Homo sapiens: one gene and its partners. The protein of the gene in region 7 interacts with the protein of the main gene of each other region in a pairwise test. Each region holds a gene or a part of one and is shown on either strand. Other genes may lie near its edges.

Region 1 (3,533 bases), on a different chromosome or scaffold from region 7:
AGGAGAAAGTGCAAAGTGAGGGTTGGGTGGAGAAAGCCCCACAGGGAGACAAGCCCTCAGCTCCCCCACCCGCACCCCCTCCGCCTGCCTGGACCCTGGTGACCCACACCCCAGCACTCCTCTGCACCACTGAGTGGCCTGAAAGGGCTATGCCACTACCCTCCCTCCTGCAGCCCAGGCAGCACACCGGCCCCCAGCGCTCACTTCTTTGCTTTGGCACTGTTAGGGTAGTCTACCACCATGCCACCGGAGAAGCCTGCCTTTGTGGCCTGGGTTGTGATCAGCTCCAACTGAGGAAAGAAAGGCAGCGGGTCAGGCAGCGGAGGTTGAGAGGAGCAGACAGCTTCACCTCCCTCCCCTCCTTCAGAAGCCAGTCTGCTCCAGGACAAATCCTGCCTGGGAGAACTTAAGGTCGCTGTAAGCCACGTAGAGAAAAGTACAGGCTAGAATCTGGCATGGCCCACACCTCCCTCAGGAGAATTACAGAACAAAGCAACTCCCCTCATTCTCACTTTCCAGTGCAGGGACCCAGCTCCCCACTCAAGTTTAGGGAGATGGCCACCAATTGGAATCCAGAGTCATTCATGTTATTAGTCAGGAACAGCTCTTCACTTATCTTTCAACATCTACATCCTACTCCGCCATTCCTTAATTTATACATCACACAACGGAGAACTGTCGGTGCCCTCTCACCCTTCCTAAATGGCATTTACTTATTTGGTTATGGAAATCAGTCGCATCACCTTATCTGTAATACCATGTCATCTGCCAAGAGAAGGCATCCCACCCCACCTCCGCAGATGCCACCCCCTTAGGATATCAGGTCATCAAATGTGCCATCAGGGGCCACACTAGGGTGCATGTTTCCTCCTTTTCCCGCCAATCTGCATAAGATTCTTTGTCGCTTCCCCAGGACAGCTTACCTGTTGAGTCCCCCAACTCCCCGGCACACCCAGTAGCCGAGGGACTCACCTGCTCTGAGTTCTCAGGGTACAGCTGCAGGACAGCTCGGGATCCCCGGACCTGAAAGAAACAGGAACATCACTGTCTTACAAATGACTGCATGAGCTTAGGGCCTGGACACCCCTCTCTTCCTTCATTCACCAAGTATTTCCTGAATTTCCATTATGTGTGAGGCATTGTTAGGGCTGGGGATAGTATGAACAAAAGAGATCACCCTGAACTTTGGAGCTCACATTTTAGTAAAGGAGGCAACTAATTCACAGTAGCAAATTTTTTCTTTGTTACAAAAAGAGGAATTAGACAAAGTGACAGAGTTTCCTTTCAGTTCAGTTTACTTTTGGTTCCAAAAAGGCCTGTTTCAAATGGATACTTGAGCAGAGATTTGAATGGAGTGAGGAGCTGGCTATTTAAACATATAAGGGAGGAGCCTTCCAGCAGGGAGAAGAGGAAACACAAAGGACCTCAGAACTAAAATATTAACCCAGTGTGCCAGGAGGAGAACTCATGTGACACACAAGACCAGCGGCCAGATAGGCAGGCGCAGTCCACCCCAGGAAAGGCCAGCGGCCACATCAGCAGGGGCAGTTCACCCCAGGAAAGACCAGCGGCCACATCAGCAGGGGCAGTTCACCCCAAGAAAGACCAGTGGCCAGATCGGCAGGTGCAGTCCACCCCAGGAAAACTAGGGGTGGGCTAGACCAGGCTAAGGAGGCAAAAACCACTCAGATCCTTCAAAACGGACTCATTTTTAAGCTGGGCACAGTGGCTTACGCCTATAATCCCATCACTTTGGGAGCCTGATGCCAGACAATTGCTTGAAGCCAGGAGTTTAACACCAGCCTGGGCAACATAGGTAGACCCCATCTCTTAAAAAAAAAAAAGTAAAAAATTAGCCTGGCATGGTGGTGTGTGCCTGTAGTCCAAACTACTTGAGAAGCTGAAGCAGGAGGATCACTTGAGCCCAGGAGTTCGAGGGCGCAGTGAGCTACGATCACACCATTGCACTCCATCCCAGGCAACAAAGCAAAAGTCTGTCTCAAAAAACAAAATTTAAAAAGAACTCATTTTTAGGACTTAAAATCTCAGACTATCAGCTAATCCTAGTGAACAACTGAAATTAACATCATTAATTTGAAGACAAAGCTAATAAAGGCTCTCTTTGCAGTAAATAACTATCCTGTTCCTCATCCGAAGAAAAGGATCAGCACTAGGAGGAGGGATAAGTGAGGAGTCAGAAGGATGTGGGCACTTTGGAAGGTACCCCTCTGGATGGTCCGGACACGACATCTCTGTCCTCACTCTGCTCAGTCCATGCCCCCAAACCAACTTCTGATTAAAACTCAGCGCAATAGACATAGGAATACCAATCAACAGAAGTAGGCCCTATTACAAGTTAATAAATTGGTCTCCGATTTTGGTATCAGTGACTTCTGGGTTTGATTAGAGTATATCAGTCCACTGAGCTTGAACTTCCATTTAGGCTGAGGACCTGGACAGAAGTAACCACAGTAAGGTCCTGCCACCCCATGCGGTCCCATATGAGTAGCTTACCCATCATGGGACACCTCAATTTCCTCACTCTACCTGCAGTGCTAGGGAGGGACAGGCAGCTAACCCAGATGGGGAGAAGATCTTATACTCACGAGAACAGAAAAAAGAGAAGCAAAAAAGCAGTACAGGCGCTTGGCAGGGTTTTCAGACTTCTTGTTAGCATTACAGAGCCACTGCACAGCAGAAATGCTAAAAAGGAAGGGACCTAGTCAGGCAACGGAGCAATCCACGTTGCTCCCCCAACCACTTCAAGCCTCTTGACATCATCCGTCCTGGCTCTCCAAGAGAAACCCCTCCTCCCACAGCTTCCCTTCTTAGAAAGTGCAGGTTGAGGCCACGTACAGTGGTTCAACGCCCTGTAATCCCAGCACTTTCTGAGGCCAAGACAGAATTGCCTGAGGCCAGGACTTCAAACCAGCCTGGACAACATAGCAAGACCCCATCTTTACTTAAAGTATTTTTAAATTTAAAAATTTAAAGACAAAAAAAGTGCAGGTCCACTGCAGGTCATGACTCTACAACACTGGAAAAATAGGACATACAGAAGGACAGCATTTATGTCCCATAGTCCCAAGAAACCTTTCCTCCACCTTGTTTCCATCTGCATCTTGAGTTGAAAAGTCCTCCGTGTCAAGGCTGTCTGCCCACACACCCCTCCTTGTTCCCTTCCTCCAATCCAAGGAAACAGGCTTTAGACTACTCACATACACACAGCCATCCCATCACCCTTCCTCCTAAATCACTCCCTTCCACTCTACCTGTTAAGTGTCTTTACAACCCCCAGATTTAAAACCTCAAGCAGCCAGGTGCATTGGCTCATACCCGTAATCCCAGCATTTTGGGAGGCTGAGATGGGTGGATCACTTGAGGTCAGGAGTTCGAGACCAGCCTGACCAACACGGTGAAACCCCGTCTCTACTAAAAATACAAAAATTAGCTGGGCTTGGTGGCATGTGCCTTGAATACCAGCTGCTCAGGTGGCTGAGGCAGAAGAATCACTTGAACCTGGGAGGCAGAGG
Region 2 (3,533 bases), on a different chromosome or scaffold from region 7:
AAGTGCTGGGATTACAGGCGTGAGCCACCGCGCCTGGCCAAGGCAAATAAAAATTGACAGAATTCAGCACCAGCAGACCCACACTCATATTCTTCAGGCAGAAGGCAAATTATCCCAAGTAAAAAGTAGAAAAAATGCAGGAAGCCCAACAAAAAGGATAAATATATAAATAAAACTAAGCAAATGTTGGTGTTACCAGGCATTAGAAATGATGTCTTTCTGGGTTTAAAATGTACTGAGGGAGTTGCCAGGTGTGGTGACTCATGCCTGTAATCCGAGCACTTTGAGAGGCTGAGGTGGGAGGATCCCTGGAGCCCAGCCCAGGAGTTCGAGAGCCTTAGCAACACATACCCATCTCTACAAAAAATACCAAAATAAATTAGCTGGGCGTATGGGCACATGCTTGTAGTCCCAGCTACTTGGGAGGCCGAGGTGGGAGATCACCTCAACCCGGGAGGCCGAGGCTGCAGTGAGCCAAGATCACACTCCAGCCTGGGTAACAAAGTGAGACACTGTCAAAAAAAAAAAAAAATTAAAGTTTCACAACAAAAAAGATAAACATACTTCATTTTGACAAGTTCAATCAGAAAATTAAATGTTCCAAAATACATAGGTACCTAATATAGTTTCAAGAAATATAAAAGCAATACCCAGAGATTCGAGTGAGACACAGACAAACCCATAATCTTTGTCAGAAATGGAATTTCACCTGTCACTCGCTGATTTAACCTTCACTTCTTCCCTGACCCACACCCAGAACCAGGCACCCTCCAGAGCTGGCCCATCTCCCCTCCAGCCCCTGCCTCCCTGCCCGGCAACACCCCGGGAGCTCCAGCGAGTCTCTGGCCGCTCCAAGCGCTCTGAGGGCACCAGCCTGTCCCACTCTGGCCATTTCAATGCCGCTCGGACAGAGCCTGGTGGGTTCATAAGCCGGTGCATACCCCCACCCTGCACGTGCTCTCCCGGGTCGGCGCCCAGTCTGGTCTGGGACCCGCATCCTCGCGCTGACGCCTCCTGGTGTCCCCACGGTGCTGGACGCAAGAGTGAGGTGGGGTGGGCTCACCCTGAGGCCCCAGCCTTCCAGAAACTGTGTAGAACGGGCGGAGGGCATGGTTGGTGTGGGGGTGGGCAGTGACTGTGCCAGCTGTGGCCCTGGGAACCTGACCTGGACCGTCTGGTGGAGGTGGACAGCCACCACCTTCTTCATGCAGTCTTTGATCATCTGGGAGGTGAAGAAGTTGGCCTCGCCCTTCTTGTCTACGGCGATCTTGCGGTAGTCCTCCAGCAAGATGGGGCAGATGGCCTGGGTGGGGTGAGTCATGTAGATGGGCCCGTCGTAGCCCACCATCTCGCTGAAGTAGGGGAGTGCCCCGCAGTGGTCCAGGTGGAAGTGGCTAGGGGGACGCAGCACAGGTCAGCCTGGGCCCACCCTGCCCCAGCCTTCACCCCCGCTCTGGGCTTGTGGGTCACTGGCCCCTTCATTCGCCTGCTGTGCGCCAGGCCTCATCCCGAGTACCGAAGAGTCAGTAATGAGCAAACACAAAACTGTCTCCCTGGAACTTTCAGTCTCAAAGTCTAGCAAGGCAATAAGCAAACGGGAAATTGAACACGTCGGTGACGGCGACATGCTCGCGAGACAATGCAAAGCTGCTGAGGGAACCGCGCATAGGGGAGCCGCTGGCTTTTCAGGCAGTCAGGACAGGCTGAGTGGAGCTGCAGGTGAAGGTGGCACAGACCTGAGGGCAAGGGCAGCGCCTGGCAAGCCCCAGGAAGGCACTGGGGACCCCACCGTGTCTGAGAAGAAACCACAACCACGAGGGGCTCAGGGGCAGCTGAGGACACTGCCTCCGGAGAGGAGAAGGGGCTTCTCCAGGCTTCACGGGCCTGGCTGCTGGGGAGGACAGGGCAGGGAAGGGCAGGGGGCCAGCAGGAGTGCTGTGGCCGTCCAGACGAGGCCACCCAGACCAGCGGGTCATGAGCTGCTGAACCCTAAAGGCTGGGGTCAGGGCAGACTCGGGACTCTGGAATCGCCAACAAGACAGTGGGGTTTAAAGATCCTGAGACAGTGAAGGCATCAGAGAGGGTGAAGCCTGGAGGGCCGGGTTCAGAAAGTAGGGTTCAGAGGGCAGGGCCGGAAGAACAGACAGAGACCAGGCCATGTGTGTGACCAGTAAGGCAGGCAGGGAGCAGATCCTGGGGCCTAGAAGCCCCCTGAGGATCAAGGATGGCACAGGCCCCTTGCCAAACGCTGCCGAGACCAAGCAAGGTGGCCCAAGCCCCACAGGCACAGACATGGGACCCTCAAGGCCCCCAACAGGAACCCACCTAATGATCACACAGTCCAGGAAGTCTGTTAGGCGGCCGTTCTGGGTGATGTAGGAGAAGTCAGGGAAGCGTCGCTAGGAAGGATGTGGGGGTTTCAGGTTGCACAGTGGTCTCCAGGCAGCATCTGGGGCCACCCATGCCCCAGGGAGGGGCCCCCAGGAAGGGGGGTTCTATGTGCAGACTCAGGCTGGGCACTCCCATCCCGCAGGTGGCACCAGGACCCCTGGCTGCTCACAGCATCCGGAGGGGCCGAGGTTACCCCCAACCTCACTGACAGATGTGAGCTGGAAGCTGAGCCCAGGGTCTCACGGAGTCCAGCCTACAGGACCCCGGGGCTGGGGCTCAGCGCCAGCACAGGGGGACCCCACCATGCAGGGGCTCACCTCGGCCAGGCCCACCCATCCCTGCTCCCCACAGGGTGCAGCCATCCAAGCACAACCACTGCTGCCCACCACCCCACTGTCCCGGCTCTGAGGCCCAGGGTCCAGCTGTGGATGGCCGGCTCTCCCAGCCTCTGGGCCTCCTGCCCAAGGGACTCACGTCGTCATTGAAGCCCATGTGCATTCCACAGTCCAGCATGACATTCTTGCCCGCAATGGAGACCAGGATGCAGCTTCGGCCCACGTCCTGGCCGGCCCCTACTCGAGGGAGGGCAGATGAGTCACTGCTGCGCCCCCCGCCCCCTGTGCTGCCTCCCCAAGCTCTGCAGGACCCCAGTGCACTGAGGAAACCGGACCAAGTCTGCTGTGTGGACAGACACATGGGCCAAGAAGCAGGGCCACCCCTACTCACAGGAAGGGGGACACAGGGGACCATGCCCCACACCATCATGTCCAGGGTGGAGGCTGGCAGCCCACACGCCCTCCCCCGCCAGCTTCCCCTGGCCTCTTAAGGTGGCCACGGCCTGCTGGCTAAGTAGTGGGCACTGTGCTGTGGCCCTCAGCCTCCAACAGAGACAACGGCTGGTCTGTGGGGCCAACACCTCGGTCAGAGTCACTCCTGGGCTGTGGCTGGACCCCCAGCAGAGCTGCAAACCAATGAGGCCACCTTCTCCAGGATCTTTCCCCAGGCAGGCAAGGCAGTAAGTGACTAAGTGCTGGCACTGGGTGTTCTCTGGTGGTGCGGCTGTGGAGGGGCGCCACACAGCCTCAGCCATGCCATAGCGAACACGGTGCCAGTGGTCCAGCAGTGGCCAGCGTGGCAACACG
Region 3 (3,533 bases), on a different chromosome or scaffold from region 7:
AAAATCTTTTGCCCTTTAAATACATAGAAGCTTTAAGATTTATTTCACATACGTCTTTATAAGAGTAAAATAAACTACTATTTTTAAGCAGTAGTATCTTTCGCATTAAGCAATGAGTGATTCAAAAAGAACTAATTTCAACTGATTATCCCAATTAGTAAATTAAACTTGTCAAGGATCATGACCAATATGTAAAAAAGATGATCACATTAAATTCTTATGGGTGAATCACCAACACAACTTGGCTGGCCTTATTACTGAGCTCCAGGTAATAAAGCAGACTGCAGACCACAAGAAAAAGTTGATCAAAACAATTTGCTTCTGATCCCTAATATGCATTTCCTGTTAATTTTTCTTTCTCGAAATCAGTACTATCACAGCAAAAACAACAGCCAATCTTTACTGAAGGTTAACTATGTTGTCAGATAGTGGTGCTAAGAATTTCATACATATTAACTCATTTAATAAATGCCTAGAAAGATCCTAATAACTTATGAAATTTACTTTTTCTAATTAAAGTGAATTTTTAAAATGTTTCTTGAAAACAAAAGCCATCCCTAGGACAACTCAAGAAATCAGAATTAATGGGAAAATATTTTCAATGAAACATCTGAAGAACATGAATAAAATGCATATACATATTTTAAATGAAATCTAGCAACTTGATTTATATCAGTAGTCCAAAAGAAAAAATAAAATCCATTTTTCCACAAAAAGCACATTCCCCTAATTTGGACTTACCTTGACAAATGGGAAACATAGAATTTTAATTTTAGAAAAAAAAAAAAAAACTAAAGCTGTGATTTTTATCTTTTTTCATATCAATTTAATATATGTGAAAATTAAATAATTTGAATTCTATGTTTACTAAAATTCCTCAAAGCACTACACTCAGAAAGTAAATCATTTCCAACAAAGGAGGTAATATGGCAACACAGCAGAGTAGAAGCATCAGTACCTGAAGAAGAAAGCTAAGGCTCCTGATCAAGCTCTGAGATCTATCTATGAACCTGGGCAGGTAACTTATCTGAGCCCAAATATCTTCATCTATTTCAGTGTAGAATTGGATCAAATAATCCTGGTAGATAAAGGAATGTACTTGTCTACTAGAAGAAAAGCCAACAGGGTAACTTAACCAGTATTCACTATCTCATGAAATAGCTTGTACTCTGGAATCAGTCTCAAATCTTGGCTTCACCAGTTACTAATAAAGTGACCTGAAGATCTAAGTCTCAATTTCTCATCTAAAAATGGAGATGACAGGTCAGGCACAGTGGTTCTTGTAATCTCAGAACTTTGGAAGGCCAAGACAGGACGGTTGCTTGTGCCCAAGATGTTTAAGCAACAACCAAAAGCAACATAGCGAGACCCCATCTCTACAAAAAATTTAAAAATTAGCAGAGTGTGGTGGCATACGCCTGTGGTCCCAGCTACTCCTGAGCCAGGAAGGTTGAGGCTATAGCGAACTGTGATTGTGCCACTGCACTCCAGCCTGAGCAACAGAGAAAGATCCTCTCTCTCTCTCTCTCTCACACACACACACACACACACACACACACACACACACACGAAAGGGCAAGGGGAGAAAACTGTACCTATCTCCTAAGGTAGTCATGAGAATTAAAGAGCTTAGCACCATATCTGGCACTTACCAATTAAGACTGGCTCTTACTATTATAATCATCTCTAGGACATTTCCTAATACTGGCCAAATATTTTGATCATATTGTATCAGCACAAGCACTATCACTAAGAACAAAAAGCAATGATTGTTGAGTTTGGGTTTAAAAGCTTATTGTTTTGAGTGATTTTCCTCAAAAAAAGTAAACATCTATAAATCCTGTAGTATAATTTTGTTTTACTTGTATTATCACAATAATAGAAATTAAATATTCCAAGACATGTCAAAAGAAAAGGTTTAAGATTATGTAAGCACTATTTTCCTCTTTCAATTTATTCACAGACAGTTGTGGAAGGGGGGCAGGGAGGAAAGTCCAGATGCTTTTTAAATTCCCAAATGACTTCTTAATTTAACATGAATTATGAAAGAAACAGTTTCTGAGATTAAAAATGAGACTGCTACTTCAATAGCATATAATGAATTGAACTGTTATAAATTCCATGAATTAGTTACAAATTCCATCACTTCTTTAAAAACCTTCAACATTTATTATACATATTAAATACATTTATTTCATACATATATGTGATAAATTATATTTATTCTTGTTGGAATGGAAGGATGATTGCCAGCTTCAACACCTCCGGGCAAATCCTGATACTAAGTGCTAAGAATACAGATACAAATGGACCAAAGAGATGGCACACAGCCTCTACGAGCCACGGCATGATTATTCTGAGGGTTGTGGGGAGGGAAGAGGGAAGAGGAGAATGTCTCAAAGAGAAGTAAAATATAAGTCAGATTTTCAGTGCTGAATACAAGTCCAGTAGATGGGCAAGGGGAATAGGATAGGACAGTCAGGGAATAAGGGTCTGGCACTAACAAAACTAACAAAGGAGACAGTAACAGAAAAGCAGGCTGGAGAGGCAGACTGTGACAGACCATTAAAAGCCTTCTTTAAAAGAGAAAATGTTGCTTAAAGTTTATCCTGAAGAGATGGTGAGATCTACATTTTAGAAAGTATAGATGTATTGTAATGTAGTCATTTAAAAATGACTCCCAAGGCAATGAGAACTTCACTGGAGACTAGAGGCTGGTTAAACGATTACTGTCTGATCTAATGCCAAGGTCATGCACTGGGAATGAGGGGATGGAGGCATATATACGTATGGAAAACATTCAGAACAGCTTCATTTATATTTATTCACAAACACACAATTATTCCAGTTAATCTTCAGAGCATTCATTTGAAATGGTTCTTATCCCTACTTTACAGATATATAAAAAAAAGAGGCTGAGAGAGATTAATTTTGTCAAATACACAAAAAGTAACAGAGCTAGTATTCAAACTCTGGTGTGTCTGACTCTAACACCTAACTCCACTACATCTGAGATACACTTAGAAGCTGAAATGGATAGGGAGTAGGGAGATGGGAATAAAGGTTAAAGCACAGCAAAGGATCTCTAAGAAGTGAACAATCCTGGGTGCAGTAAACCACCATGGCACGTGTATACCTATGTAACAAACCTGCATGTTCTGCACATGGTATCCCAGAACTTAAAGTTTAAAAAAAAAGAAGTGAACAATCCAAACAGAATAATAATGTTTAATCTCTGAACCCTTCTCTTACTTTCACAAAGACAAAACTGAAGTTTCTCTAAAGCACTGCTATTGAAATGAGCATTTGCTATTGCTTTGTGTTCTATTATTTTCCCCTATATTATTTTTGTTATCATTTCCTCCTCTGTTTTGTTACTATGCCAGAATTTAATACTTATTCAGCTCCTTACAGGACTTGGAAAAAAAAAAACAGCACATAAATCAAAATAAACAGAAACTTGAATTTACTATAGTACCCATATTCCTGTGTATTTTTTTAAAAAGTGTAGATATTTTATACCAAGGAATTAG
Region 4 (3,533 bases), on a different chromosome or scaffold from region 7:
GTAGGTCTGTCTGACTGCAGCTTCTTTCTGTGCATTGCCTAGATGGATGATGCTGACCCTGAGGAAAGAAACTATGACAACATGCTGAAAATGCTGTCAGATCTGAATAAGGACTTGGAAAAGCTATTAGAAGAGATGGAGAAAATCTCAGGTAGGATGTGTGAACCCAAAAGTATCTGAGACAGGTCTCAATCAATTTAGAAAGTTTATTTTGCCAAGGTTAAAGATGCACCTGTGACACAGCCTCAGGAGGTCCTCAGGACATATGTTCAAGGTTGGCAGGGTACAGCTTGCTTTTATACATTTTAGGGAGAGAGAATACATCAGTCAGTACCTGTAAGATGTACACTGGTTCGGCCGGGCGCGGTGGCTCACTCCTGTAATCCCAGCACTTTGGGAGGCCGAGACGGGTGGATCACGAGGTCAGGAGATCGAGACCATCCTGGCTAACACAGTAAAACCTCGTCTCTACTAAAAATACAAAAAATTAGCTGGGTGTGGTGGCAGGCACCTGTAGTCCCAGCTACTCGGGAGGCTGAGGCAGGAGAATGGCATGAACCCGGGAGGTGGAGCTTGCAGTGAGCCGAGATGGTGCCACTGCACTCCAGCCTGGGCGACAGAGTGAGACTCTGTCTCAAAAAAAAAAAAAAAAAAGATGTACATTGGTTCGATCTGGAAAGGTGGGACAACTCAAAGGGGGATGATTCCAGGTTATAGATAGATTTAAATTTTTTCTGATTGGCAATTGGTTGAAAGAGTTATGGTCTAAAGACCTGGAATCAATAGAAAGGAATGTCTGGGTTATGACGGTAAGGGGTTGTGGAGACCAGAGTTTTATCATGCAGATGAAGCCTCCGGGTAGCAGGCTTCAGAGGGAATAGATTGTAAAAAGCTTTCTTATCAAACTTAAGGTCTGTGTTCATGTTAATGCTAGTCACCTTTTCCTGAATTCCAAAAGAGAGGCAGGTATAACGAGGCATACCCAATTTCTCCTTCTCCTCACGGCTTGAACCAACTTTGGCCAAGCAATACACCCACCTTGGCCTCCCAAAGTGTTGGGATTACAGGTATGAGCCAGCGTGCCTGGCCAAATAGCTTTTATTCACTAGAGCAGACTTTAGAAAATTTCTCCTTAGAAATGTTTGCAATTTTTTGCCTATGTACTTTTGAACTATGAATAGCTGAGACACGTATCAGTTAATTTAGAGAGTTTATTTTGCCAAGTTTGGGGACACTTATCTGTGACACAGCCTCAGGGGGTCCTAATGACATGTGCCCAAGGTGGTCAGAGCACAGCTTGGTTTTATTTATTTATTTATTTATTTTAAGACAGAGTCTCGCTCTGTCGCCCAGGCTGGAGTACAGTGGCGTGATCTCGGCTCACTGCAAGCTCCGCCTCCCGGGTTCATGCCATTCTCCTGCCTCAGCCTCCCGAGTAGCTGGGACTACAGGCGCCCGCCACCACGCCTGGCTAATTTTTTGTATTTTTAGTAGAGACGGGGTTTCACTGTGTTAGCCAGGATGGTCTTGATCTCCTGACCTCGTGATCCGCCCGTCTCGGCCTCCCAAAGTGCTGGGATTACAGGCGTAAACCACCGCGCCTGGCCTTGTATTTTTAATAGAGACAGGGTTTCACCATGTTGGCCAGGATAGTCTTGATCTCCTGACCTTGTGATCTGCCCGCCTCAGCCTCCCAAAGTCCTGGGATTACAGGTGTGAGCCACCGCGCCTGGCCTTTTTTTTTTTTTTTTTTTGAGACGGAGTCTTGCTCTGTCGTCCAGGCTTGAATGCAATGATGTGATCTCAGCTCACTGCAACCTCCGCCTCTCGGGTTCAAGTGATTCCCCTGCCTCAGCCTCCTGGGTAGGTGGGATTACAGGCGCCTGCCACCATGCCCAGCTAATTTTTGTATTTTTAGTAGAGACGAAGTTTCACCATTTTGGCCAGGCTGGTCTCAAACTCCTAACCTCAGGTGATCCACCTGCCTTGGCCTCCTGAAGTGCTGGGATTACACGCGTGAGCCACCACGCCCAGCCAGCAAACAGTTTTATGTAGTGAAAAATCTATCAATATTTTCCTTTCTGATTTATTGCCATTATTTTGACACCTAGAAAGTCTTTCCTCAATCTGAGATCAGTGAAATATTTAGTTGTATTTTCTTCTACTTTTCTCCGTATTCCTTTTTAACATTTAATCCTAACCCATCTGGCATGCCAAATGACCTACGCTGCGTATTGCTTTTTTTTTTTTTTTGAGACAGAGTCGCGCTCTGTTGCCCAGGCTGGAGTGCAGTGGCACAATCTCGGCTCACTGCAAGCTCTGCCTCCCGGGTTCACGCCATTCTCCTGCCTCAGCCTCCCGAGTAGCTGGGACTACAGGTGCCCGCCACCATGCATGGCTAATTTTTTTTGTATTTTTAGTAGAGATGGAGTTTCCCCGTGTTAGCCAGGATGGTCTCAATCTCTTGACCTCATAATCTGCCTGCCTTGGCCTCCCGAAGTGCTGGGATTACAGGAATGAGCCACCGCACCCAGCCGCATATTGCATTTTTATATAAATCTGCTACAGGCTGGGCACGGTGGCTCACACCTGTAAACCCAGCACTTTGGGAAGCCGAGGCAGGAGGATCACAAGGTCAGGAGTTTGAGACCAGCCTGGGCAATATGGTGAAACTCCATCTCTAATAAAAATACAAAAATTAGCTGGGCGTGTTGGTGGATGCCTGGAATCCCAGCTACTCAGGAGGCTGAGGCAGGAGAATCACTTGAACCCAGGAGACGGAACTTGCAGTGAGCCGAGATCATACCATTGCACTGCAGCCTGGGTGACGGAGCGAGACTCTCTCTTCTGTGATAGTCCCTGGGCATAGAGGGAGGGTGTTTGTATCGTTTTAGCAGCAGGGCATTTGCAGTGTAACAGATCCGGGCCCAGTGCGATGCCAAATGAGGGAGATTCATATCTTTGGTCATCTGCAGAATACCATGATTTTAGTTTCCTTGGAAGCAAAATGAGGGGAGATAAGTTTGACAATTATAAGAGTAATTTGTGCATTAGAACAGAAAAAGGAACCTATTCCATTAGGGCACCAACGAAAAATATGAGGAAAAGTTACAATCTGGTCCTCTCTAGAGGATTATTGTAGCCAAGAAACAATGATTTAATTTGCACTCAAAAAAACGTTATGGCTGGGCGCAGTGGCCTGTAATCCCAGCACTTTGGGATTTTATTTATTTATTTATTTATTTTGAGACAGGGTCATACTCTGTCACCCAAACTGGAGTGCAGTAGTGCAATCTTGGCTCACTGCAACCTCCACCTCCCAGGCTCAAGGGATCCTTTTTTTCATCTCAGCCTCCTGAGTAGTTGCAACTACAGGTGCACACCACCATGCCCAGCTAAATTTTGTATTTTCTGTAAAGACAGGGTTTCAACATGTTGCCCAGTCTGATCTCAAACTTCTGAGCTCAAGTGATCCACCCACCTCAGCCTCCCAAAGTGCTGGGATTATAGGTACCAGCCACCTTGCCCGGCCA
Region 5 (2,524 bases), on a different chromosome or scaffold from region 7:
TCTTCGGTGGGTTTGATGATGGCTGGATGGAGGACAGGCGCCCTCTGCTCCCTGCACTACCTCCATCTTTTTGCCCTAGGGCTTTTTATAGAGTGACAATAGCCCCGCCCATAGGAGCTCACAGTCCAGAATCGTCTTAATTCACACACACCCACAGTGCACACTTGTATATTTAAAAGATAGGGAAGAGGCTGGGCGGGTGGCTTATGCCTGTAATCCCAGCACTTTGGGAGGCCGAGGCGGGTGGATCACTTGAGGCCAGGAGTTTGAGACCAGCCTGGCCAACATGGTGAAACCCTGTCTCTGCTAAAAATACAAAAATTGGCCGGGCATGGTGGCGCGCACCAGTACTCCCAGCTACCTGAGAAGTTGAGGCAGGAGAATTGCCTGAACCTGGGAAGCAGAGGTTGCAGTGAGCCGAGATCGGACCACTGTACTCCAGCCTGGGCGACAGAGTGAGACCCTGTCTCAAAATTAAAAAGAAAAAGGAAGAAATAAAAGATCTGGAATCAGTCTTTAGCAACTTTAATACTTCTTGATTTTTTGCCTAGTGTATTTCATGAGGAGGTCAGCTCATTTGCTCCCATTTGAACCATGCTGCCTCTGAAACTTAATTACATCCAGAAAGGACACTTGCATGCTAGTTTATCTATGGTCAGTTGTGGAATAGGTCTGTTTCTATATGCACATGTAACCCAAATGTCAAATATAAATTGGGTTAGGTGGGAAAAATAATTTTAAAAGGTGGAAAAAGTTCTATTATGTTGACATGCTTAAATATTGGTATATTGAGTATTCTTTCATCAGCATCTCATATTTACTGGCAAATACAGGTAATTTCTGTGTACTTTGAGATAATTCTGTTAAATTCATATAGACGTCAGAAAATACTTTTCAAAACAAGCTGGACCAGGCGTAGTGGCTTATACCTGTAATCTCAGCACTTTGGGAGGCCGAGGCAGTCAGATTGCTTGAGCTCAGGAGTCTGAGACCAGCCTGGACAACATGGTGAAACCTCATCTCTACAAAAAATACCAAAATTAGCTGGGTATGGTGACAGGTGCCTGTAGTCCCAGCTACTCAGGAGGCTGAGGTGGGAGGATCACTTGAGCCCAGAAGGTTGAAGCTGCAGTGAGCCGTGACTGTGCCACTGCACTCTAGCCTGGGCCACAGAGTGAGACCCTGTTTCAAAAAATAAATAAATAAATAAATAAATAAATAAATAAATAAATAAAATAAAAATTTAAAAAATCAAACTAAACTGGGGAGTTATAAAAATACAACTGAAATATAAAAAACAAACAAAGAAATCATATGCCTGAATGACCAAGAAGCTGGCTAAAGTGCAGATTCCAGGTCCCCACCCCTCCTAGAGAAGGCTCCAGGTCATTCTGCAGCTTGCTCAGGCTTGAAAACCTCTGAATTTAACCTGATGCCAGCCCTGGGAGGAACTTTAAGACTATCTTTGTGCTTTTTAAAGCTTTCATAGCTGTCCTCCAGCATGGGAATTAACACAATCTTACATGGGAGTGCCCAAGGGTGGAAGAAATACAAGTGGATCCCTCTGGCTGAAGGCCACAGAGGTCACAGCCTCTGTGGCACAGTCTCCCCCCGCCCCAAGAGCTTAGAACCATCCACCAACTTGACCATCTCCATAGTAACAGATGGAGAAATGGAAGCCCAAAGAGGGAGGGATTTGTCCAAAGTGAGGTGGGTGCTCTTGGTCAACCCAAGACTTGCCTTGTCTCTGAATCCCCAAAACTTAGAGCTTCCTGCCTCACCTAGCCTTGCACACAGCGGGTGGTGAGCACTGCCCTCAGCCCCGCCCTTGGCGGTGTCAAACACACTCCTGGGTCTGGGCTGCAGCCTCAGGCCCTGAGCTCATCTTCCCATTCCTCCCCTAATTGTCTAATCAAAGGCATCTGCACTTAGCAAATGTCTCAGCCCCACAGTGACACCGGCTCTCTGGGGTGGTTCTCCTGCTGGAAGCTGGGTAGGTAGAGGGCAAGACAGAAGTCTTGAGTGAGACTCCCTTCAAGGAGGAGTACGAATCTGACATTTTTCATAACAGCTGATGCTATATCTCATCAATTCTACATATACATATTTTGACATGTAACGCTTCTGAAATCAGAATGCAACATATAATCAATGGTATCTTGCAAACTGCCTCATGATTTAGTTTTCTAAAAAGTCTTATTAGTGCATAAAATAATAGTGCATCTTACAAAAAGCTGATCTTATGCTTGAAGAAATATAATAATTATCTCCTTTTTTGGAGGTACTGGCCTTGATGTACATTATGTTATTTAATCCTCTTAAGAACCCTATGAGGCAAGGTGTTATCACTCCCATTTTAACAGGTGACAAGATGGAGGCTCAGAGAGAGGTTGGGTCAACTGCCTTCCAACAGCTGGTAAGTGGTGTGATCATTAAGTTTATGTGGCAGCTTGGCTAGGCTACAGTGCCTGTTGTGTGGCTAGGTACTAGTCTAGATGTTGCTGTCAAGGTATTTTTAGATGTG
Region 6 (3,533 bases), on a different chromosome or scaffold from region 7:
ATTTTCAATCCTATCTGAACATTAGAATCACCTATAGAACTTTTTTAAAAGGAGAGGAGAGTGAGAGAGGGAAGCAAATAATATCCAGGTCCCACCCTAGACTGATTAATTCAGTTTCGACAAGTGGGTGAGACTCAGTCCATCGCTCTTATTAAAAATTCCCCAGATTATTTAAATGTATTGCCAAGCTGTGAATCACTGCCTAAAATCAGCATCTTTTCTGAGAGCACCACTTCTATTAGAGGCCATTCTTTCTGTCACATTTGATAAACAACAGAGAGAGGAGTGCCAGCATTTTTCTTGCATATCTCTTTATTTATGTGAATCTAAATATATGTCTAGTTTTACTGCAGCAGTCCATCCTTTTCCATCCTTTGTTTTCCATCATTATCTCACTAGGACCTTGACGTCCCACTTAAAGTCACTTTCTCCCCCATAACTCCTACCATCATTCTGTGAGATCCCAATATCCATATGGTTGATGTATCCATTGCCATAGCTAAAGAATTTCTGCGTTCCTCAATTCACTCCAGCATCATCCATGGTGACACCCAGAGCTTGCTATCACCCACCATGGTTTCATCAGAAAAATCATTGACTCTGCCATCCCAGCCTCTTTCTTTACAGCTTATATTCTCATGTTTATCACATACACCATACCAAGGGTTTTTATATTTCTGGTGTTGTTGCTGTTTTATTTTCGCTTTACCTTAAAGGGATATCTAAATTATTTATTTCCCCTCATTTTTCTGCCAGTCTTTTCAGTCCCTGTTGCCTCACTTTCTTCCTGGACCGAATGGTTGACCTATACTACATTAATATATTTATTTCCCTTGACCCCCAGTCTGCTGCATTGTCCCAGTAAAAATCCTAACCCTAGATTGAGCTCTCACACTGCTTTCTCTGCTTTTTAATCTCTGCACTTGAGCCCTGCTACAAATGGATGATTTCTATTTCTGTTAGGGCCTCAACATTTCAGGAAAATCTTTTTCTTTTCATTTCTATTTCGAATTCCCTCAATACATACTCCAAACCTTCACCTCTCTTCTCAATACCTGCTTTACTCACTCACAAGAATGACTGTATCTCCTCCTACACCAAGGAAATTGAAATTGAAGCATATTCTTTCTCAACTCTGCCTCCCTCAACTCTACCACCTCTAAACTCACTTAGCCAATAGCAAAAAGCCATGGAGTTACTGATCAAATTACTTTCTTGAAATATCTTCTCAGATGTTCCATAAGCATCTCAAGCTGCAGTTAATTTTTCCCACCCTTCCCCAATCCTCCTCTGTATTGCTTATCAACCCAAAATTCTGGCAGTCATTCTTGACTTTTCTCTCCCTCTCTCTTACATCAAGTTCTACCCTTTTTAAATCCTAAATATTTCTTAAACTATGTCTTTCCGTTCCTACTACCGCTTCTCTATTGCAAACCTTCATCTCTCACCAGAGCTGTTTCAGCAGCCTTCCAACTCATCCAGTTTCTTGAAGCCCATTCTCTAAATGGTGCCAGAGTAATTTTTCATAAATTCTGGTTGGATCATATCATTTTTCTCCTGAGAGCCTTTCAGTGACTCCACCTTGGCCACAAGATAGAGTTCAAGCCCCTCAGCATGGAAAACGCAACCTTTCATGATCTGACCTGCCCTGTCTTACCTGCTTCATCTCCGTTCCTCCCTACCACACACCCAAAGTTTAATGCTGTAACAATACCTAGCTATTTAACTTTCCCAAAATATGAACTGAAGTTTCATTTGTTGGTATATTTGCTAATACTTTTTTATTTTACCTAGAACATTCTTACATTTTTCCTTATCTTTCAAGGTTAAGTTTGAGTATTTCAGGAATCTCTCTTCTGTTATGCAAATAAAGTTAGGTGCCTTGCCCTTGCACTCTCATAACATCCAGTATATTCCTGAATTACTGCATTTGGCATATGGTATTAAAAATTCTGTTTCCACGTCTGTCTCCCCCACTAAAATCTCTTTAAGAATAGGAACCAGGGCTGGGCCGGGCTCGGTGGCTCACACCTGTAATCCCAGGACTTTGGGAGGCCAAGGCGGGCAGATCACCTGAGGTCGGGAGTTCGAGACCAGCCTCACCAACATGGAGAAACCCCATCTCTACTAAAAAATACAAAGTTAGCCGGGCATGTAACAAAATTACAGGCATGGGATTGCATGCCTGTAATCCCAGCTACTCGGGAGGCTGAGGCAGGAGAACCGCTTGAACCCGGGAGGCAGAGGTTGTGGTGAGCCGAGATTGTGCCATTGCACTCCAGCCTAGGTGACAAGAGAGAAACTCCGCCTCAAAAAAAAAAAAAAAAAAAAAAAAAAGAATGGGAACGAGGGCTTTCTCATGTTTGTATACCCAGCACCTAGCATAAAATAAGTCCTCTGTAAATGTTTGTTTTCCATTTTGCCCAGCCCAGTCTCACAGTACATATCAGGCCCATAAAGTGTGTTCTTCAGTCAATATCTGATGAATATATAAGTGAATGATTGATTAGGAAATTTATTAAAAAGGAATAAGGAGAGCAGAAGTTGAGACAACTGAGATTTCTTATGAGTGACTGGGAGGATGGTGATATCATTAAGTGAGAATGGAAACAGAAGGAGGAAGTAGTTTCAAGATAAAGATACTGGATTGCTTTAGCAAGAGTTGGTTTGGGAGGCAGGAATAGACATCGCTTTACAGCTTTTCATCAGATACTTGATCAGGTCAGCAGTTTTGGCAAGCACTGTGAACTAGAAGAATCTGTTTAGAAATCGTACTTGCAGATATAGAGGTGTGGCAAGGATCACCAAGAAAGTACTAAGAGGGAAGAGGACAGGGACAGACTTTTGCAATGTCTGCATCTAAGGGGAAGGAAGAAGTCTCCTAAAACCAGAAAACCAGTCAGGATAATGTGTTATGAAGACCAAGGGAGAAAACATTTCAAGAAAAAATGTTTTCTTGAATTTCTTGAATTTCTGTAGGGTGATCTAGTAACAAGCAAGACTGTTCAAAGAAGAAAGGCCTTTTGATTTGTTCTTTAAAAACAAGTTCTAGTCGGTATGTCTGTTAGAATAAATTATTGTTTTCTAGACGTTCAGCAGACAAGGAGAGAGGAGATGGTAATGGAAGGGACATGGTGAGAGTTTTTTGTTTGTTTTTAAATTATAAAATGCATGCCTATTGGAAGAAATTAAAACATTCAGAGTTATATAAATTAAAATATAAAACTCTTCCCTCTATTTCTTCTACTCCCTTCTAGTTTGACATTTATCCATCCAGAACTTTAAAAATATTTTTGTATATTTTTATTTTTATAAAAATGAGATCACATTATATACTCTATAATTGCAAATTGCTTTTATTTTAATAGCATGTCATGAAGTTTCTTCTCATCAGTGTAAAGAATTACCTCATCCTAGCCAAGTGTGGTGGCTCACACCTGTAATCCCAGCACTTTGGGAGGCCGAGTGGGCAGATCACGAGGTCAGGAGTTCAAGACCAGCCTGGCCAACATAGTGAAACCCCATCTCTACTA
Region 7 (3,533 bases):
TCCCAATTCCCTGCCCTCCACCTCACCTTCCCAAAATGACCCCGGCCCAGCACCGCCAGGAACTTGAAATCTTCGAGGGTCAGAGGTGACTTCCTCAGAGGGCTGTGGAGAGAGGCCACTGGTGAGAACAAGGACAGCGGGCAGGGGTGGTGGACAGGGGGCCAGGGAGTGGTGTCACCTGCACAGGGCGGGGCCTGGGGTCTCCTGGGTCTCCGAAGGCAGCTCGGGAGCAGTGGATTCCTGGATGGGGGAGCTCTGTGGCGGAGAGAGGAGGCCAGAGTAAGGGGAGTCAGAGATGCCCTCATAACCACAGCAGCCTCCGAGGCCCTGCAAGATCTGCCCCCGACCTCTCTGTCCTCACCTCTCCTCCCACGCAGCCCCTCACTCACTCTCCTCCAGCCACACGCCTGCACCACCATGGCTGGCTAATTTTTGTATTTTTAGTAGAGACGGGGTTTCACCATGTTGGCCAGGCTGGTCTGGAACTCCTGATCTCAGGTGATCCACCCGCCTCGGCCTCCCAAAGTGCCAGGATTACAGGCGTGAGCCACCATGCCCAACCTGAATTTTTTTTTTTAGAGACAGGGTCTTGCTCTGTCTTCCAGGATGGAGTGCAGGGGCGCAGTCATAGCTCAGTGCAGCCTCCAACTCTACCTCCGCCTCCTGAGTAGCTGGGACTAAAGGCATGCACCACCACGTCCAGCTCATTTTTTTTTTTTTTGAGATGGAGTTTCACTCTTGTTGCCCAGGCTGGAGTACAATGGTGTGATCTTCGCTCACTGCAACCTCCGCCTCCCGGATTCAAGTGATTCTCCTACCTCAGCCTCCCAAACAGCTGGGATTACAGGCATGCACCACTACGCCCGGCTAATTTTTTATATTTTTAGTAGAGATGGGGTTTCTCCATGTTGGTCAGGGTGGTCTTCAACTCCCGACCTGAGGTGATCCACCTGCCTCAGCCTCCCAAAGTGCTGGGATTACAGGCGTCAGCCACCGCGCCCGGCCTAATTTTTGTAGAGATGGGGTCTTGTTCTGTTCCTCAGGCTGGTCTCAAACTTCTGGCCTCAAGCGATCTTCTTCGTTCAGCTTCCTGAGTAGCTGGGACTACAAGTGCAAGCCATCATGCCTGGCTTGACAATGTCCATTTTTTATTATTATTTTTTTTATTTTTGAGACTGAGTCTCACTCTGTCGCCCAGGCTGGGGTACAGTGGTGTGATCTCAGCTCACTGCAACCTCCGCCTCCCAGATTCCAGCAATTCTCCTGCCTCAGCCTCCCAAGTAGCTGGGATTACAGGCGTGCGCCACCACGCCCGGCTAATTTTTGTATTTTTAGTAGAGATGGGATTTCACCATGTTAGCCAGGATAGTCTTGATCTCTTGACTCCAAAGTGCTGGGATTACAGGCGTGAGCCACCATGCCCAACCCATTACTTCTACTTTCTAAAAAATTAGATCTATAAAAAATTAGCCAGGTGTGGTGGTGCACGCCTGTAGTCCCAGTTACTTGGGAGGCTGAAGTGAGAGGATCACCTGAGCTCAGGAGGTCGAGGCTGCAGCGAGCCATGACTGCGCCACTGCACTCCACCCTGGATGGCAGAGCGAGACCCCGTTTCAAAAAAAAAAGATAAAAGATAAAATGCATTCAGGCTGGGTGCAGTAGCTCATACCTGTATCTCAGCAATTTGGGAGGCTGCAGAGGGGAGAACACTTGAGGTCAGGAGTTCAAGACCAGCCTGGCCAACATGGTGAAACCCCATCTCTACTAAAACCAAAAATTAGTTGGGCATGATGGCACATGCCTGTAGTCCCAGCTATTAGGGAGGCTGAGGCATGGGCATCTTTGAACCTGAGAGGCGGAGATTGGAGTGAGCTGAGATCACGCCACTGCATTCCAACGCCCATTCTGGGCGACAGAGTGAGACTCTGTCTCAAAATAAATAAATAAATAAAATGCATTCAGTGAGGTGGGCAAGAGGAACAGGTTACATATGCATCCACCCAGGAAACCATCAGCCAGCCTAGGAGTTGGCAAATGCTGGCTGGTGGGCCAGCCTGTTTTTATAGTTTGTAAGAGCTAAGAATGGCTTTCACTATTTTTTTTTTTTTTAAGAGATGCAGTGGCCGGGCATGGTGACTCACACCTATAATCCCAGCACTTTGGGAGGCTGAGGTGGGCAGATCATCTGAGGTCAGGAGTTCAAGACCAGCCTGGCCAACGAGGTGAAACCCCGTCTCTATTAAAAATACAAAAATTAGCTGGGTGTGGTGGGCACACACCTGTAGTCCCAGCTACTCGGGTGGTTGAGGCAGGAGAATCCCTTGAACCTGGGAGGCAGAGGTTGCAGTGAGCCTAGATCACGCCACTGCACTCCAGCCTGGGCAACAGAGTGAGACTCCATCTCAAAAAAAAAAAAAAAAGAGATGGAGTTTTGCCATGTTGTTCAGGCCAGACTCCAACTCCTGGGCTCAAGTCATCCTCCTGCCTCGGCCTCCCAAGTAGCTGGGACCACAGGTAAACTGATTTTTACATTTTTAAATCGTTGGGGGAATAAAAAAAAACAAAAAAAGGAATAATATTTCATTGCCCATGAAAGTTCTACAATGTTCAAACTTCCGCGTGTACTACCAATAAGGTTTTACTGGAATAGAGACACGCTTACAGTGTACATATATCGTCTGTGGCTGCTTTCAAACTACAAAGCAGACAGGGACTGTCTAGCCCACAAAGCCAAAAATATTGACTCTCTGGCCCTTTCTGGAAAACGCGTGCTGACCTCTGACCGAGATCAAGATAAGGAACATTTCCATCACCCGGCAGGTCCCCTTGTGGCTCCCAGCTTGCGGTAACCTCTGCCTAGAGAACAGCACTCTCTCGATCATTCTATCATTGACATGAGTTTTAAATATGCTCGTTTTGCAAAGTGGTACACTGAGGCACAGAGGTGAAGCGCAGAGCCAAGAGGTGGCACGGCAGGGGTGGGAACCCAGGGGGTCCAGCCGCTGAGCTCACAGTTTTATTTATTTTTATTTTTTGAGATGGAGTCGCTCTGTCGCCCAGGCTGGAGCGCAATTGGTATGATCTTGGCTTACTGCAACCTCCGCCTCTCAGGTTCAACTGATCCTCCTGCCCCAGTTGCCCGGGTAGCTGGGATTACAGGTGCCCACCACCGTACCCGGCTAATTCTTGTATTTTTATTAGAGACGGGGTTTCATTGTGTTGGCCAGGCTGGTCTTGAACTCCTGGCCTCAAGTGATCCACCCGCCTCAGCCTCCCAAAGTGCTGGGATTCCAGGTGTGAGCCACTGTGCCCAGCCTGTTTTGTTTTTTGAGATAGTATTTCGCTATGTTGCCCAGGCTGGAGTGCAGTGGCAGGATCATGGCTCACAGTGGCTCACTGTGTTGCCCAGGCTGGTCTCAAACTCCTGGGCTCCAGCAATCCTCCCATGTCAGCCTCCCAGAAGTGCTGAGATTATAGGCATGAGCAGTTTTTTAACCAGGATGGGGATCTGGGCACACGTTTTAACCAGCATA

The links.
Region 1: the proteins of PKN1 (region 7) and BUD23 interact in a two-hybrid assay, tested with the Homo sapiens proteins (one large-scale study listed by BioGRID and IntAct).
Region 2: the proteins of PKN1 (region 7) and INTS11 interact in binary tests that used the Homo sapiens proteins (3 or more experiments, as listed by UniProt).
Region 3: the proteins of PKN1 (region 7) and RAB3IP interact in binary tests that used the Homo sapiens proteins (3 or more experiments, as listed by UniProt).
Region 4: the proteins of PKN1 (region 7) and SYCE3 interact in binary tests that used the Homo sapiens proteins (3 or more experiments, as listed by UniProt).
Region 5: the proteins of PKN1 (region 7) and CCNJL interact in binary tests that used the Homo sapiens proteins (3 or more experiments, as listed by UniProt).
Region 6: the proteins of PKN1 (region 7) and KIAA1328 interact in binary tests that used the Homo sapiens proteins (3 or more experiments, as listed by UniProt).

What each region holds. Positions count from the first base shown.
Region 1 is NC_000007.14:73,690,086-73,693,618, reverse strand, and holds part of BUD23 (18S rRNA (guanine-N(7))-methyltransferase), read right to left. Parts: intron 2,704-3,533; coding exon 2,607-2,703; intron 1,024-2,606; coding exon 973-1,023; intron 291-972; coding exon 205-290; intron 1-204.
Region 2 is NC_000001.11:1,318,131-1,321,663, forward strand, and holds part of INTS11 (integrator complex subunit 11), read right to left. Parts: intron 2,964-3,533; coding exon 2,866-2,963; intron 2,400-2,865; coding exon 2,326-2,399; intron 1,395-2,325; coding exon 1,166-1,394; intron 1-1,165.
Region 3 is NC_000012.12:69,745,330-69,748,862, reverse strand, and holds part of RAB3IP (rab-3A-interacting protein isoform alpha 1), read right to left. Parts: intron 1-3,533. UniProt on the Homo sapiens protein: Guanine nucleotide exchange factor (GEF) which may activate RAB8A and RAB8B. Promotes the exchange of GDP to GTP, converting inactive GDP-bound Rab proteins into their active GTP-bound form.
Region 4 is NC_000022.11:50,552,915-50,556,447, reverse strand, and holds part of SYCE3 (synaptonemal complex central element protein 3), read left to right. Parts: intron 1-42; coding exon 43-151; intron 152-3,533. UniProt on the Homo sapiens protein: Major component of the transverse central element of synaptonemal complexes (SCS), formed between homologous chromosomes during meiotic prophase.
Region 5 is NC_000005.10:160,248,574-160,251,097, forward strand, and holds the end of CCNJL (cyclin-J-like protein), read right to left. Parts: 3' UTR 510-2,524; downstream 1-509.
Region 6 is NC_000018.10:37,154,116-37,157,648, forward strand, and holds part of KIAA1328 (protein hinderin), read left to right. Parts: intron 1-3,533. UniProt on the Homo sapiens protein: Competes with SMC1 for binding to SMC3. May affect the availability of SMC3 to engage in the formation of multimeric protein complexes.
Region 7 is NC_000019.10:14,464,287-14,467,819, reverse strand, and holds part of PKN1 (serine/threonine-protein kinase N1), read right to left. Parts: intron 256-3,533; coding exon 179-255; intron 103-178; coding exon 27-102; intron 1-26. UniProt on the Homo sapiens protein: PKC-related serine/threonine-protein kinase involved in various processes such as regulation of the intermediate filaments of the actin cytoskeleton, cell migration, tumor cell invasion and transcription regulation.